Linked DNA regions of Homo sapiens. The protein of the gene in region 3 interacts with the protein of the main gene of each other region in a pairwise test. Each region holds a gene or a part of one and is shown on either strand. Other genes may lie near its edges.

Evidence for each region.
Region 1: the proteins of PTPRN (region 3) and UBQLN4 interact in a two-hybrid assay, tested with the Homo sapiens proteins (one large-scale study listed by BioGRID and IntAct).
Region 2: the proteins of PTPRN (region 3) and TIMMDC1 interact in binary tests that used the Homo sapiens proteins (3 or more experiments, as listed by UniProt).

What each region holds. Positions count from the first base shown.
Region 1 is NC_000001.11:156,047,299-156,050,798, forward strand, and holds part of UBQLN4 (ubiquilin-4), read right to left. Parts: intron 3,256-3,500; coding exon 2,993-3,255; intron 1,362-2,992; coding exon 1,203-1,361; intron 1-1,202. UniProt on the Homo sapiens protein: Regulator of protein degradation that mediates the proteasomal targeting of misfolded, mislocalized or accumulated proteins.
Region 2 is NC_000003.12:119,508,498-119,512,229, reverse strand, and holds part of TIMMDC1 (complex I assembly factor TIMMDC1, mitochondrial isoform 1 precursor), read right to left. Parts: intron 1-3,732.
Region 3 is NC_000002.12:219,302,765-219,306,496, reverse strand, and holds part of PTPRN (receptor-type tyrosine-protein phosphatase-like N isoform 1 precursor), read left to right. Parts: intron 1-2,665; coding exon 2,666-2,762; intron 2,763-3,659; coding exon 3,660-3,732. UniProt on the Homo sapiens protein: Plays a role in vesicle-mediated secretory processes. Required for normal accumulation of secretory vesicles in hippocampus, pituitary and pancreatic islets.

The DNA.
Region 1 (3,500 bases), on a different chromosome or scaffold from region 3:
AGTGGCACGATCTTGGCTCACTGCAACCTCTGCCTCCCGGGTTCAAGCGATTCTCCTGCCTCAGCCTCCCAAATAGCTGGGACTACAGGCATGTGCCATCATGCCCGGCTAATTTTTTGTATTTTTAGTAGAGATGGGGTTTCACCATTTTAGCCAGGATGGTCTCGATCTCCTGACCTCGTGATCCGCCCACCTCAGCCTCCCAAAGTGCTGGGATTACAGGTGTCAGCCACTGCGCCTGGCCAACTTTTGCATTTTCAAACATACAAACATAGAATGTGTTTAATGTAAAATTAAATTTTTAAAAAGAACCATGGCCAGGCGCGGTGGCTCACTCCTGTAATCTCAGCACTTTTGGAGGCCAAGGTGGGCGGATCATGAGGTCAGGAGATCAAGATCATCCTGGCTAACATGGTGAAACCCCATCTCTACTAAAAATATAAAAAGTTAGCCGGGCGTGGTGGCATGTACCTGTAGTCTTAGCCACCAGGGAGAAGGCAGGAGAATTGCTTGAACCCGGGAGGCGGAGGTTACAGTGAGCCGAGATTGCGCCACTGCATTCCAGCCTGGGCGATAGAGCGAGACTCCATCTCAAAAAAAAAAAAAAAAAAGAAAGAAAGAAAGAACCAAAAGGGCACTGAAATTATATATGGCAACATGTTAGGGCAACATTGATTAAAAACAAAAAAAAAGAATGTTACATTTTTATCTATTTTTTTGTGTGTACTTGAATAGGATTCATAAAGCATTTTTAAAAGTGTATAATCCTGGGGCCCAACCCCAGAAATGGATTCAATAAGTAGCTCAAAGGTGGGGACCAGGATTCTCATTATCAACAAGGTCCCCAGGTGATTCTGATGCAGGTGATCCATGGACCATACTTGAGACATGCTGTATCAGGGCTGGCGTCTGACCTCAGGCCTGCCACGTGACCTTTGAGCCCCTGGTACAAGAAGTTTGTCAGGATGTCAAGTTCCTTGGATGCTATGCCTCAACCACTTCCACAAGGACCTCTGCTTATATTTGTCCATGCCAAAATGGACCATCCCCGGATATGTACTGTTGAGAACTGCCTTCAAGCCAAGGCCCACCCCTCAGGGGACTGGGGAAAGAAAGAAGAGCAGGCCCAGGTTTGCCTGGGGTGGGGGTAGGGAATCTCGAGCCCAGACAGCCCAACCCACTACCCTGGCCCTTGATCCCACCTGTTCCCGGGCAGCACTGAACATGGGCTCCTGGATGTCCGTGTACATGCGGCGGAGGGCATTATACCCTCCAGGGATGCTCTCAAGGTTGCTCAGGGCCCGGTCCTGGTTCCGCATCATCTCTTGCATCATGGCTGGATTCCGAGCAAGCTCCATTGTCTGATCAAGGGAGAGAGACAAAATGGGCCCCGGAACCAGGGGAGCACCAACCTAGGAAAAGGGTGGGCCTTGAGGAAGGGGGGTCTGTATCAGGATCAGGACCAGGGCCCAGGAACTGCCCCACAGTGACAGGGAGTAGAGTAAACTGGACTTCCTTCCTCTACTGTAATCTTGGCTCCAAGCCCGCCTCCCTGTGGGTATTTTGGTTGGCTTTTTCTAGTGGAGGACAATGATCCCAGCTGAAGTGAGGGCAGCAGCTTCCCTCCCTTAGGCTCAGAGTGTCCAAAGAAGTGTCAGGGTGCACAAGGAAACTGAGTCAGAAGAGACACAGAAAGAAAGGGGAGGAGGCAGAAGAGAAAATTAACATCTACTGAGAACCTACTGTATATGGGCACAGGGCCAAGTAGCTTACGGAATTCAAGTCATGTAATCTCCACAATAACCATCTCAGGTGTTTATTTCTGTCCCTATTTTGCAGATGAGCAAATAGGCTCAGAGATGTTAATTGACTTGCTGCCCTGGGACACACAGTCACTGAGTGGTGAAGACAGTGTTCAAAGCCAGGTTGGTTGGTCTGTCCAAGACCATACTGTGATTCCTGGTAAATGACTGCAAGTTGGGGAAGGAAAGCGTTCAAGCTGGAATAAAGCTACTGACACCCTGTAATTCCCACCCCCAAGTCTTTGCTCTGCCTGAACCTTGAGAAACACTGAAGATGGGGGCTTTCTTCTATGGAGCCAATGGCACAATCTCAATAAGGGGTGGCTATGTCAACCCCGGGGGAGTTCATCACAGAAAAATAAGTATAACTACTTGTTCCCATTCAACTTGGAATACCTTCCCTCTCCTTCCCAAATGTGCTCCACACTTGCCTTTTCTAAGACTCCTTTATAACTGATATGCCCAGCTTCCCAGAACTCTGATCTCTTGTTCCGTAATTCATTCATTCAATAAATATTTACTGCATGACTACCACGCACCAGGCACTGTTCTAGACAGTGAACAAAACACTCACAAGTCCTTGACCTTACATAAATTATCTTCTGGTGAGTCCAGCACTGGTGTCCACAGCCCTGCTGGGAAGATCATCTACCTTGGTCCTCTGGTGGAGCGGACCATGAGCTGGAACTCCCAAAGAGCAACATCACAACAGTCTCCCCTGGTTCTCCATTCCCAACTGGGCCCTGCCCAGCCACAGTGCTCCCCAAACAACCTACTATCTTTCACTCCCAGGCCTTTATATTTGCTGTCCCTCAGCCCTGAATGTTCTTCTTTCTTTCCCCCTGGTTCGTCTTCCTCCTTTGGGTCTCAGCTCGGTGACATTTCTTAAGGCCTCCTCTAAGCCTTAGGGTAGGGTCAGGAGCTCTTCTCTATGCTCCTAGAGGATCCCATGATTATCCTTCTGATAGCAATGGCCACATTGTATTCTAATTGCCGGTTTACTTGTCCTACTTCCCTTTGACACCTGGAATTCCTGAAAAGCTAGGCCTGTCTTTTCATCCCTGTACCTCCAGTGTTCAAAACTGCTGAATACACGAATGAACAAATCAATGTAGGACAAAGTAGGAAAGGCTGGGCAGGGCACGGCTGGGCACCAGTGTCCTCCAGCTCTCCAGCCCTCTCATACTCACCTGCCTCATGAGTTCAGGGTTATTGAGCATGTGGCTGATCTCAGGGTTCCGCTCCATCAACTGCTGCATCTGGGGGTTGGCCATAATCATGTGACGCATCAGATCAGGGTTAGACATCATATCCTGGACCAGGGGGTTCTCCATGATCTGTGACAGCATCTCAGGATTGGACATCAGCTGCCGCTGCATCTGCTGCTGCAGCTCCATGAAGTTGGCAGAGCCCAGGCCTAGGCTGCCCAGCCCCAGGATGCCCCCAAAGCCAGCTGTGGGAAGGGGGCAGGGTCACAGTCTGCCACAAGAACAGTGTCCTCACTTAGCCAGAGCCACTGAATTCAGATCTCCAGGACACGCCCCAAATGCTTCTCACATGTCCCTCTTCCTGTCATTCCCACAGCCCGGCCCTGATCCACTGCTGGCAAAAAAATGTGAGCCTACTAGACTGAGGCTGTGCCAAACATAGAACTGAGCAGAGAGAAGGCAACCAGCAATGGTCTGTTGAATGAGTGGC
Region 2 (3,732 bases), on a different chromosome or scaffold from region 3:
ACAGAACATATTATTAAATTCTGTATCACTGAGTTTTCTCCCACCTAGTTCCATTGCATGGAGGTACCACAAATTTTTGTCTAACACTTAGATTTTCTATTTATAGATATTTTAAATAAAGGTATGATGATAATCCCTCCACAAATAATCTTTTTATACATTTGATTGTTTCCTTAGGACAAACTCACAGAAATGAAATTTCTGGGCCAAAAGGTATAAGTATAAACATTTTTAAGGCTTTTGACTTAAATTACTAAACTGCTATTCAAAAAGGATGCATAAACTTATTTTCCAAATAAAAGTATGCAAGTAATCTAGTCTTCTGCATTCTCTTAGTTTATTTTTTCCAATTTGATAGGCCAGAAGTGGTATGTAATTTTTAAGTTGCATTTCTCTGATTAGTAGAAAAAAGTTGTTTTTCCCTAGGTTTACAAGTTATTTGTGGTACGTCTGTGAATTACAAATTCATGTCCTTTGTCCAGTCTTCAACTGAGCTATCCTTTCTTTTTGATATATTAGGGCTTTTATCCATTACCTGCACATACTATTATTTTGGCATTGTTTACATTTAATGTCTTCCATAGTATTTATGACATAGATAGGTTTAAAAATTTTATGTGGCCAAAACTGTGTTTCCTGTTTCCTAGTTTCTTAGTTCTTATGCTTAAAAATACATACAGTTGATAAACATGAGTTTGAACTGTGCAGATTTACTTACGCACAAATTTTTTTTTCTTTTTTCTTTTTTTTTTTAAGATGGAGTCTCACTCTGCTGCCCAGGCTGCAGTGCAATGGCATGATCTTGGCTCACTGCAACCTCTGCCTCCCGGGTTCAAGCTATTCTCCCCCACCTCAGTCTCCCAAGTAGCTGGGACTACAGGTGCATGCCACCACAACTATTTTTTTTATTTTTTAGTAGAGACAGGGTTTCACCATGTTGGCCAGGCTGGTCTCGAACTCCTGATCTCAAGTGATCCACCCGCCTCAGCTTCCCAAAGTGCTGGGATTACAGGCATGAGCCACCATGCCAGGCCACATGAATTTTTTTCAATAAATATATTGAAAAATGTTTTGGAAATGTGCAATAATTTGAAAAAACTCGCAGATAAACTGTCTAGCCTAGAAATATCAAAAAAAATTAAGAAAAATGTATGTCTTTAAGTGCATAAAATATATGTAGACACCAATCTATTTATGTGTGAAGCAACTGTTTATGTTATTGGTAAGGCCTCTGGATAACAGCAGGCCATTAGTAGTTAAGTTTTGGGGGAGTCAAAAGTTATATGTGGATTTTTCAACTGCACAGGGCAGATGTCAGCATTGCTATTGTGTTCAAAGCTGTTTTCAGTGTTGTCCAAAGGTCAACTTGTATATGTACACATTTATATATCTTCCTACTCAGAAATCAGAGACACATTTACTTCTATATTTTCCCCAATCTTTTATGGATTTTTTTACATAAGCACCATAATAAATGTTAACTAATTTTGTTGTACTGAATATAGTTATAATTTCTTTCCAAATAGTTAATAACTGTTCCAGCCCAAGAATGGTCTATTCTTAAACCACGAATGTGAAGTATCACCTTTACTTATTTGTGGGTGCTTGGTTTTGTTCCTGACCTTGCAATTCCATTCCACAGATCTACCAATACCTCTTTATTGTCCTCTTTATTGTAACTTTATACAGATTTTAATTTTACAGTTGCAAGAACCCCTCATTATTTTTTGCTGAAATGTCTTTGCTATGCTCTTAATAATCAGCATTTTAGATATGATTTAGACATTGTATCAAGTTTTTTTAAAAAAGCCTGTAATTTTGATTTGAATTGCTTTCAATTTATAAATGAAGTAGAAAAATACTGGGTTAACTATCAACTGTTTCCCCATTTTTATTATTTATGATTTGTAATTTTCTTCAGAGAAGTTGTACATTTATTAAATTTATTCCTTATTATATTACATTCTTAGTACTATTATTAAGAAAATTTTTTACTTTTCAAGTAACTGCTGAAATATAAAAAGGCTATTTATATATTTACACTTTACTGATAGCAATAATTTTTCAAGTCATCTTTTAAAATATTACCTACAAATACAGAAAATTTTGCTTCCTCCTATCTAAAAGCACTGCCTTTTTCCCCTTCTGTGTTAATATATTTTTAACAGTTTTATTGAGGTATAATTTACATAACACAAAATTCACCTAAATGTACAATTCAATAATTTTTAGTAAAAAAATCTAGTGGCCCGGCACGGTGGTTCATGCCTGAAATCCCAGCACTTTGGGAGGCCGAGGCGGGCGGATCACGAGGTCAGGAGATTGAGACCATCCTGGCTAACATGGTGAAACCCTGTCTCTGCTAAAAATACAAAAATTAGCCGGGTATGGTGGCATATGCCTGTAGTCCCAGCTACTCAGGAGGCTGAGGCAGGAGAATCCCTTGAACCCGGAAGGTGGAGGTTGCAGCGAGCCGAGATCGCACCACTGCACTCCAGCCTGAGCGACAGAGCAAGATTCCGTCTCAAAAAAAAAAAAAAAAATTTAGTTGCATTGCTATATAATCATCACCAAAATCCAATTTTTAAATGATTCCATCATTACAAAAAGATCCCCCACGCCCATTTGTGGTTACTCCTGGTTCCCAATCTCACCTCAATCCACTAATGTACTTTCTAACTCTACAGATCTGCTTATTCTGGACATTTCATATGAATAGAATTATACAATATGAAGTCTTTTGTGTCTAGCTTTTTTCACTTAATGTTTTTGAGTTTTATTCATGTCGCAGCATGTATCAGTTTTTTACTGATGAAAATATTCAAGTGAATGGACATATCATATTTTATTTATCCATTCACTAGTTGATGAATTTATGGGTTCAGTTTGAGGCTGTCGAGAATAACACCACTATAAAAATTTATATATAAGTCTTTGCGTGGACATGTTTTCATTTATCTTGGGCAGATTCTAAGACATGGAATTGCTGAGTTGCACAGTAAATTATACTTAACTTTTTTTTTTGAGATGGAGTCTCACTCTGTAGCCCAGGCTGGAGTGCAGTGGCGCGATCTCAGCTCACTGCAAGCTCTGCCTCCCAGGTTCACGCCATTTTCCTGCCTCAGCCTCCCAAGTAGCCGGGATTACAGATGTGCACCACCATGCCCAGCTAATTTTCGTATTTTTAGTGGAGGCGAGGTTTCACCATGTTGGCCAGGCTGGTCTCAAACTCCCAACCTCAAGAGATCTGCCTGCCTCAGCCTCCCAAATCGCTGGGATTACAGGCATAAGCCACCACACCTGGCCTTCCAATGGTTTTCTTAATTCATTTGGATTTTCTACTTGCAAGATGTTGTGGTTACCCTCCAGAGACAATAAACTCCCCCACCCAAAATTTGAATCAGATATTGAAATGCCAAAGTACCAAGAGGTACTAAGAGGATACCAAAAGGTTTATTACACATATAATAAGGCTTTCCAGGGAGAGCAAGGCAAGATCCCAAGCATGTCCCAAAATGACTTGAGAACCTGAAGGCTGACTGACTGGCTTGTGGTTTTAGAAGGTGGGGCTAGAGCAAGAGCTCCCTCATGTAGGCCTGAGCTTGCATGGTTGAAACTTCCTGCTGGTGTCAACCAAGGTAGCACTTGGGCTTTCTTATCAGCTTGTCAAGATGTGGGGCAAAAAGGAAAGGGAGACTTCCAGTTTCTGGTATGGCATGTGAGAAGTTTAGA
Region 3 (3,732 bases):
TGAGACTAGAATAGATGGAGTCAAGAGTTGGTGAGGGGGACCACTAAAAACCACCACAATAGGTTGCTCTGTCTATGGAGTGCCATTCTTTTGTTTCTTCACTTCTCTAATAAACTGCTTTCACTTTACTAAAACAAACAAACAAAAACTACCACAATAACTCAGATAAGAGATGAATGTGGATGGGGCCAAGGTGATTGCAGGGAAGGAATGAAGGATGAGAGAATTCTGCATTTATTTTTAAGGTAGTCAGCATTATTTCGTGAAATATTGGATATGGTTATAAAGAGAGGAGTCAAAGTTTTTTTGGGTTTATTTTGTTTGTTGATTGTTGTTGTTGTTGTTTGAGACAGAGTCTTGCTGTGTCACCCAGGCTGGAGTGCAGTGATGCAATCTCTTGCTCACTGGAACCTCCACCTCCCAGGTTCAAGTGATTCTCCTGCCTCAGCCTCCCGAGTAGCTGACATTACATGTGCGCGCCACCATGCCTGGCTAATTTTTGTATTTTTAATAGAGACAGGGTTTCACCATGTTGTCCAGGCTGGTCTTGAGCTCCTAACCTCAAGTGATCCATCTGCCTGGGCCTCCCAAAGTACTGGGATTACAGGTGTGAGCAACCGCGCTCAGCCAGGAGTCAAAGGTTTTATTTACTGAATAACTGAATCAGTGGAGATGTCACTAATTATAATGTGGAAACTTGCAAATGGTTCAACTTGGTGGGGGTGTTCAGCTTTGAATATGTTGAGTTTAAGATGTCTACTCAAGTGAAGCAGGAAGTTGAGTACATGAGACTGGATTCTGAGAGACAGAGTTCTCACCTGGAGATATAAATTTGGAATTCTTTGGCATATAGATGGTAATTACACCCATGAGGTGGATGAGATAACCAAAAGATTGAGTGTCTATTAAGAAGACCAAGGATCAAGTCCTAGATAATTCTTCTATTAAAAGGACCAGGCCAGGTATAGTGGCTCACACCTATAATCCCAATACTTTAGGAGGCTGGGGCAGGCAGGTCACGAGCTCAGGAGTTCGAGACCAGCCTGACCAACATGGTGAAACCTTGTCTCTACAAAAAATACAAAAATTAGCCAGGCATGGTGGCGAGCACCTGTAATCCCAGCTACTCAGGAGGCTGAGGCAGGAGAATCACTTGAACCTGAGAGGCAGAGGTTGTGGTGAGCCGAGATCGCACCACTGCACTCCAGCCTGGGTGATAGAGCGAGACTCCATCTCAAAAAAAAAAAAAAATGAGGACCAGGATAAAGAGAGGAACCATCAACTTCCTCTCAGGGAGACTGAGAAGGGGAAGCCAGTGGAGTAGGATTAAAAACAACAGTGTTCAGTGTCCCAGAAGCCAGGAGAAAGTGTATCAAGGAGGAGGAGTGACCAACAGTGTCAAATGATGATTACGGGATAAGTAAAATAAGATATGAAAATTGACCACTAGATTTGGACATGCAGACAAAGCTGCTCTTGATGAGAGCAGCTTTGGTAGAATAGTTGGGAATAAAATCCTGAATAAAGTGGATTAAGAGGGAATAGAAAGAAAGGAATTGGATACAGTCAGTATAGACAACTTTTTCTAGAAGTCTTGCTGCAAAGATATGGAGTGATCCCTAGAGAAGAAAGTGGGATCAAGCAGTATTTTTCTTAAGATGGAAGAAATTGCATATTGTTTGCATGGGAATAATGTGAATAATTCAGTAGAGAACAAAGGAAATTATGTAGGAAAGAAGAGAGAATTGCAAGGAGAATGTTCCTGAATAGGTGAGAGGGGATGAAATCTAGTGCTCAGAGGAACTGGCTTTAAATAGGAACACAGACAGCTCATCTAATGTGAATAAGCAAGGAGGCAGGTGTGGATGTTGGTAGATACCAGAATACAAGTTAAGAGCAGCACAGATTTTAAATCCAGAACTAGAGAAGAAAAAATGAGGGTGAAAAGTGGGAAATTATTCCTTTAGAATAAGTGACTGAACTTTCCTGAGAGCAGAGTTTTTTTGGGGGAAAGAGTCAAACAGGAGAGCTGTCTATGAATAAGATGATGATGATAATGGTGATGATGATGATGATGACGACAATGAAGATGATGATACATGTTTAAAACATGTGGATTATGCTTTAGAGTTTTCTAAGCACTTTGATTTCCCTGATCACACTTGATCTTCACAACAGCCCCCTGAAATATGTATCGTTTCCACTTTACAAACAGAGAAAGTTGAGGTTCAGGGTCAACACAAAGAATAATAACAATAGTAATAATAATTATGGTAATAGCATTTGTTAAAAGTTCACTACATGACAGGCACTATTCTAACCGTTTGATATGTATATGTGTTATTTTAATGATAATAACAATCCTAGGAGGTATAAATCCCCATTTTATTGATGAGGGAATTGAGGCTTGGAGAGGTTCAGCAACTTGCCCAAGGTTACATAATTCATCAGTAGCAAAGGCAGGATTCAAACCCAGGTGGTCTGGCTCCAATAGCTGTACCTGAGGGTGGGAAGAAGACAGCTCAGATCACCCACTGAGTTTGTCCCTCTACTCTGACAAACCCCATGAGCTGCAGGGCAGAGGGTACAGTTCTGATCCCCAGTGGTCCCCGTTACTGGATCCCCAGACTCCTGAACCAACTTACGCTGTCCTCTTTCCTGACAGGATTGTCCTGGCACGATGACCTCACCCAGTATGTGATCTCTCAGGAGATGGAGCGCATCCCCAGGCTTCGCCCCCCAGAGCCCCGTCCAAGGGACAGGTAGGCAGCCTTTCTCTACAACTCTAGCAATGGTGAGGCTGATGAATCTGTGGTTGTCCTAATTGATGGAGAGAAGGGGAAGGAAGTGGGCACCAAGGCCAGCATGCTGGGGCACAGGTAAAGAGGTGCAGGAATGGTCACTCTCTGACATGCTCACATGACCAAGAGGAGCTGAGCTCATCTCTAGGGATCCAGAAAAACGGGCATTTTTTGAATGTTTTGAAAAACATTGACATTGGCTACTTTAAAAGAAGCATCAATGTAGTCATCATGGGAGAAATTAGAATGCTGTTGGACTGAAGTTGTTCAATATTCCATTTCATTACTATGTGAATTTCTATATGACAGGAGCCACCATCATCTTTTTGTGGTTAGGGCCTCTAAAGGCATCATTCAGACTGCAAAGCAGAGGAAAGTAAATGAGGTTTAGGGAGCTCAGATGATGATACCAGGATGAAGATGGCATAGTGGTGGGGGGTGGAGGAGCAGTCCTGAATATTTGGACATATACTTGGAGAGCCAGGTGTGGGGACATGGCACACAGGGGCAACGGGGACAGCTGCAGCCACAGTTCATCTAGAGAAATTCCTGGTTGCCTTCCCCTGCTCCTGTTTGCCCCTTCTCCATCCCCAGCCTCATGATTACCCAGCCTTTGCAGTTGTTTCAGAGACTCAGCCATGCTCACCAGGGAGGCAGATACCTCTGCCCTCAGCTTGGCCCTCTGGTCCCTCCCCATTCCCACCCAGCCCATCTCTCTTCCCCTGAGGTCACTCAGTTTCTAAAGAGGTCAGGCCTGCTCTTAACCGCTGAGCCTGCCTGGCCCCGAATAGTTCTGCCTTGCAGGCTCTCTATGCCCTTTCCCCCGCTCCAACACACACACTTTGCTTTCCTCTACAGGTCTGGCTTGGCACCCAAGAGACCTGGTCCTGCTGGAGAGCTGCTTTTACAGGACATCCCCACTGGCTCCGCC